Regions from separate parts of the Homo sapiens genome. Here region 2 is linked to region 1. The links come from fine-mapping of genetic effects on gene expression. A gene starts in region 1. The other region holds a variant in brackets. All regions are shown on one strand. Distances are between the middles of the regions.

Region 1 (2,915 bases):
GAAGGAAGAGGGGGCAAAGCTGAGGCTTTCTTTCCTTCAGGGACTATTTTCTGTGGCCTGAGGCAACACATTTACTAACTTCAGAAACATCTCAGCTGAAGTCCCGCAGCAAAAAAGGGTAAAAGGGGAACTAGGCTGGAACCTTGTTAGGATTTACAAAGAGAACAGCATGACCACTCCAGAAGGGTTATAAAAATGCTTCACCACTAACTCCACCAAACCCTCCTGCTGTAAACAGCTCTAATGCTAGTGACTACCCTCAGACACTTACTGTCTATCCCTTTAGGGTGTTCTTAAAATACACCGGAAAGAACGGAGGTAAAAATACTGGAGTGTTTCCTCCACACTGGAAAGAGGTGAGTCATATCATTGTGATTGGTGTTTTAAGTATATTTTTATTGTTATTTTAAATGGCATTCAAGTTTAGCTTCAAGTTCAACAGCAGTCTTAGCCTACTTCCTCCCACACAAATACTCCTGCCAGTAAATAGGCACTCTTAAATAAAACAGTGCCTGCAAGAACCTTCTGACCCATTGAAATTAGTCTTGCCCTGTCTTCAGAGGTGTATTCGTCCCTCTCTGGGTGTAGAGCGGTATTTAAGGGTGACACTCGGGCACGCAGGAGGTGTGGCAGGGGGCGGGGAATGCAAGGTCACTGTGGCTCAGGGGCGGGTGTGGGTGCAGGCGCGTTGGGAGGACCCTGGGCGCCCTGGGAAGTCCGAGGGCAGGCGGCAGGGCTGGCGGGCAGCAGTGCTGGCTTCCGACGTGAGGTGGTGACGGCGGGCCCTGCGCCCAGGCCCTGTGCTGCCGACCGCTGTCCTGGCTGCGCAGCTCCCCAGCAGGCGCCGGGCTCAGGTCGCGCCTTCAGTTAGCGCTCAGCCTGCGCTACTGCGTCTCCTCCGCTTGCGATTTCTGGTCGGATCCCAGCTGGCCCAGACTTGCTCTGAAGTAGGAGGAACCGCTGTCGAGCGAAAAGTGCACACCGGGTGATTGATGAACTCTTAATAGAACTAACCTCTCCTGCCCCCAACCCTAGACACACACAGAGAAAACCTCCACCCCAGCCCCTTCTCCAGTCCTCCTCGCGGGCGAGAGGGGACGCGGCCGCCAGCCGGTAGGGTGATTAACTCACCGTCTGTCTTTGCAAAAGTGTTCCAGGTGGATCAGGAGCGCCAGCCCACCCCGCCCGCAGCCTGGCCGCTCGCTGAGGCGCGGAGAGCGCGGAACGAGCGCGCGCATCACGTGGCGGCGCGGACGTTTGTGCCGCGCGCCCGCCAGACCGCCCAGGAGGCGGCGGCTATTGTTCCCCGCAGGGGCCCGGGGCGCCCTGAAACGGGGTCCACGTCAGCCCGCTCCCGAGCGTGTCCTCAGGTCTAAGGACGGGTGGGGCTTCCTTTGTGTGTTCTCTGGAAGGGGCTGGGATGGCGTCGTTGCTGCCCCAAGGGGTAACCGAGGGGGATTGAGGGAAGATGGTACCAGCTCCCTAGAGCTCAGCTCACCAGACCTACTCTTCCGCTCGACCCTTGCAGAGGAGGTGGGGACGGATATGGTATTTGTAGGGCAGCGCTGTGAACAATGGAGCCATCAAAAAGGCCTTCTCCCAGCCTCCTCACCAACCACGGACATTCCTGGCCCAACAAGACCTCCTGGCCAGGTTTTGAGCCCTGCTTCCCAGGTAAAAACACTGCCTGTACCAGAGCTCTCCATGAATTTTGGTTTAAATTAGGATTTAAATTCTTCTGGCCCTTACTAATGTTAAAACCCAGCTTTTATGATTTCTCCAGGTAGTATTCTTTCCTTAAAATAATCCAGACTAGCTATAGGAACCAATCAGGACATTTTGCCCAAGATCTAGGACAGAAAGACTCATGCAGTAACTCCTGCCTTACAGATCTGGGGACCCTTCACCTGCCTCTACTACTGCAAATGATTGGATATTCGTCTGACTTGGCTCTTCCCTAATGTGTGGAACTAATTTTGTTCACTCTGTTTCATGCTGGACCTGGCCTGAAAATGGGCCCTTATATTGTCTTTGCACTTTCCAACTTGCCAAGGTAGGTGTGAAACCTGAGGGAAGTTTTTAGGAATAGGCTTTAGGCCAGGTACTTAAATCCATTTGTTCCCAACCTTGGACTCCAAAGATAAGGGCATTTGTAGCTGGAGTAGAAAAGAAGGGAACAATGAGAACTAAGATTTCATCCTCTGTGATGATTCTTATCATTCACCGTCCTTCCTCTCCAGCATCACCAGTGCAGAAAGTGCAGAGGACTTATGTACCCAATCTTTTTTTTTTTTTTTTTTTTTTTTTGAGATAGAGTTTCACTCTTGATGCCCAGGCTGGAGTGCAATGGTGTGATCTCAGCTCACTGCAACCTTGCCTCCCAGGTACAAACGATTCTCCTGTCTCAGCCTCCCAATATACCCAATCTTTCTCCTTTCTATCCAGGCCTTCTGCAAGAGAGATCTAAGAACCAGCCCTCAAAGATGGTAAGGGCTTGGCTAGTGACAGCCCAGTCTCAGCTCCCTGTGCCCAAAGTGTCGGAACAGGGCCACTCAACCCAAGCCCTACATATATACTCTGGGAAGTTGCAGTGCCTCGAAGTGATCAGGCCATAGTCCTGTGAAGACTGGGGTCATCCATGTCCCTTCCTGCCTACTCACAAACTTCTGTTCTTCCTATTCTTTTCTTTCAGTTTCTGAAAGAAGGACCAAAGTAATGCCAAGAACTCCCAGATGAAGAGGACCTTCCTTAGACCTATAACAGATTCACTACTTGACTTCAGAGGGAAGTTTCAGCTAATTCTCAGGAAAAGGTCAAAACAGGCCTGTGACTGTCCCTTGAATACTGAAGGTATAAACAAGCTTCTGGCTCCTCCAGGTCAAGCAGAGGAACACTTTTATTAGAATGAAGGGTTA
Region 2 (2,915 bases), 810 kb before region 1:
GGTCAATAGCTGTCTTATCAATGGAGCTGAGAATGAAAACCTAGGAAAAGTGACACTGGCTCTAGAAGGGAACTGGGCCATCTGCCTTATAGACCATCTGCTAATTTGTTGCTCATTTATTGGTGAAACTTGGGAAGGTAATGGATATGTATGAGCTCTCTCAGAACTTGCCTTGTTGCCTAATGGATATCTTTGACTTTTCCAACTCCAAGTATCTGTAAAAGTTCCTAATTTCCTCATAGACTTGTAAAACCACTCAAACCCACCAGGCCCTTATTCTGTTTCCAAGATCACCTTTCAGGTGTCACCGTGTTGACAAGTTATTTGGAGCTCTATTGACCTTGTCTCATTATTGGAACTTTTCTAATATCTTGAATGCAGATGGAAGGAAAGGAGACAATAACAACAAAAAATAAAACTGCAACAGCATGATTTATTATAGTATATATTTCTCAGAAGAGACAAAAACAGCATCAATGAAGAGCAATCATAGAAGGTTCACAGTTGCCTCAGAACCAATTCAACAATTCATAGGGGGTTGGCATCACATAAACAGCTGGGAAAAAGCAGTTAAATGATTTTCTACATGCTCTTAGGGAGAGACTGTGTCTAATCTGATGCAGTTGCTCCAAAGGAGCGCAGCTAATGACATCTACACCAAATATCAGTTCAATAAATTGCTTCCTTTCATTAATCTGAGTGTCGGTGTCTGCATTAACGGTGTTAACACAGCAGAAGGTCTAAAGGAGAGATAATAAGGACCTGTTTTTAGTGACATGTGGGGGCGGCCCTGTGAAAACAAGCAAATATATAACTGGTCCCTTGACTCTGGTGAATCAAAACCATTTCATTTATTCATTCTGTCACTCCAAAATTATTCTTTGAGTGACTACTATGTGCCTGGTCCTGGGCTATGTCCTCATGTACCAATGGACAAAGGGCCTTCAGGGAGCTTATAGTAGGTGGGGAGGAGGCAGAAGTCATCACCTGCATACATAATTGACTGTGATGAGGGATAAGAAGGGAAAGTATGCATTACTTTGAAAAAATGCAACAGGGGAATACCTTTAGATGGAGACTGACCATCTTTCTAGAAAAATCAGGGCTTTAGGCTAGAAGAGCTTGTAGTGTATGGGCGATTATGACTCCTCTGGGAGTCTAGGCGTACATGAACAGTGTGCGTTTACTATCAAATCTGTATGTGACTATGTTTTGCAGTGGGCAGGCCTAAACAAACTTACCCCCCTCCCTCCCCAAGGCCAAGGAAGCTGAGAGGCCAAAGATAAAAGCTAACATATCCAGTCTCTTAGAAATAAGCATTCAATAGGGACTTGGCAAACAGAAGCCATGTCTCTATCTCAGGTGGCAGTGAGACAAGATGGTGGATCCCTACACCATTACCCCTCAGACGCAGGGCTTATATGGTATAGGGAAAGGGTGATTCAGAAA[G/A]GATGCATAGGACAATTGAAGTGCGATAACATCAAGACTGTTTGGCTTAAGGGCAGGATTTACAGTAAGTATCTGTTCTTACACAAGGAGCAATAGATAAACTGGAAATTGTAGAGGCCTTCCCAGAGCTGGATTTAATCAGAAGCCAACATGGAAGATGAGCATCCAAGATGGAGTTGCTTTGGTCTCCACAAACTGTATTGGGAAAATACAACTTTCCTTACCCTGATTATTATACATTATGGTTAGGTGCTTATAAATGAAGATAATGACCATTTCTGTAATCGGCAATGTACTGTAAATGAGATGGAAGCACAGTGTATCTCTGGGCAAGGTGTGTAATAGTAAGGCCTTCCCTTTCCTTCCACCCTCAAGGCTTGGGTGGATTAAGAATCTCTGGTCACTATGGCACCTTATGACCATTGATGAGCATCACTTCAAGAAAGAACTAGGACTGTCTCTGGACAGAGCATTTTTTCTTTGAACTCTGGTGTCTGTGAGCTGGCTCACCTGATTCGGGCGCTCTGTGGCTTCCAAGATTCATCTTGAGAATCACATCAAAAGTCCTGAAACTGACTGACCATCAGGGGATGCAGAAGAGAGAAGGGTGCCCTGGCTAAGCACTGGCTGCAATGCTGGTCCAAGGGGGAGAAACTACATGGCCAAGAAAATGCAGCTCACTCGTGGGAATGTCATAGCACCTGGAGGAACTCATAAAATAGCATAGGAATATGCCTATACCATTTCTGCTTCTATTTCATTGAGGGAGTGAATATGATAAGATGTCATCAGGTGACTGAATGTATCGTTAGCATTCTCCTCCTTATTGATTACATTTATTGAAATCTTGTATGTCAGGCACTGTTTTAAGCTCTGTCATCCATCTGTCTGTCTAAAACCTCATTAAATTGTCACAACTGATTGCCAAATGTAACTCTTCAAAACAGGAATATTCTAATTTATTTTTCTTATAACTGGGAAGATATTTTTAAGTTTCCAAAAAGAAAGAGTTAATGTTTTTAATAAAAGGTGTTCCCATTCCCTGCCTGCCCACTTGTCTCTTAGGTTGTTACTCAGAATTTGATGCCATGTTTGGTTTCAAGGACAGAAGGAGGCTAGCGTAGGGTGAGGAAATCTGTCAGGTTCTTTGAGTTCACAGGTGCTTGGCCACATAATATATGACTGTATATCCAGTATTGTTTCCCAACCATGTTCTGAGGTTGACAGTGTAAGGCTCATGAGGACAGGTATTTCATCCACTTTTTCAATGCTTTTTCTCTACTCACTAGAAAATATCTGGTACATAGTAAGGGTTCAGTAAATATTTGTTGAGTAAAAGAATTTTGTTGAATAAGAGAAGGAAAATCTAGATTTTCTAACTGGAACTGCTCCCAAATCTCTATGTAATATTGGGCAAGTCATCTAATATTTGTTTCCAATTTACTCCCTCTTAACATATTTGGCGT

Which allele goes with the higher level. Alleles are on the strand shown, and positions count from the first base shown. SD is a standard deviation of normalised expression in the study named.
With allele A in place of G in region 2, the expression in stomach of the gene that starts at base 1,219 in region 1 is lower (moderate effect, 0.55 SD a copy in GTEx).

The links.
Region 2: its variant is fine-mapped to the expression of HAGLROS in stomach (GTEx, PIP above 0.99).

What each region holds. Positions count from the first base shown.
Region 1 is chr2:176,176,470-176,179,384 of GRCh38, reverse strand. HAGLROS (HAGLR opposite strand lncRNA) reads right to left here and starts at 1,219. Exons shown (of 2, transcript NR_110457.1): 1 at 1,132-1,219; 2 at 376-960. HAGLR (HOXD antisense growth-associated long non-coding RNA) reads left to right here. Exons shown (of 3, transcript NR_033979.2): 2 at 1,891-2,053; 3 at 2,693-2,915. RefSeq lists an enhancer at 1,028-1,822.
Region 2 is chr2:176,987,164-176,990,078 of GRCh38, reverse strand. It overlaps LOC107985965 (a long non-coding RNA gene), which reads left to right. Exons shown (of 2, transcript XR_001739799.1): 2 at 1-694. Among named protein-coding and RNA genes, the nearest start is that of MIR4444-1, 220 kb to the left of the region's middle. The variant G/A (reference allele first, on the strand shown) is at 1,450.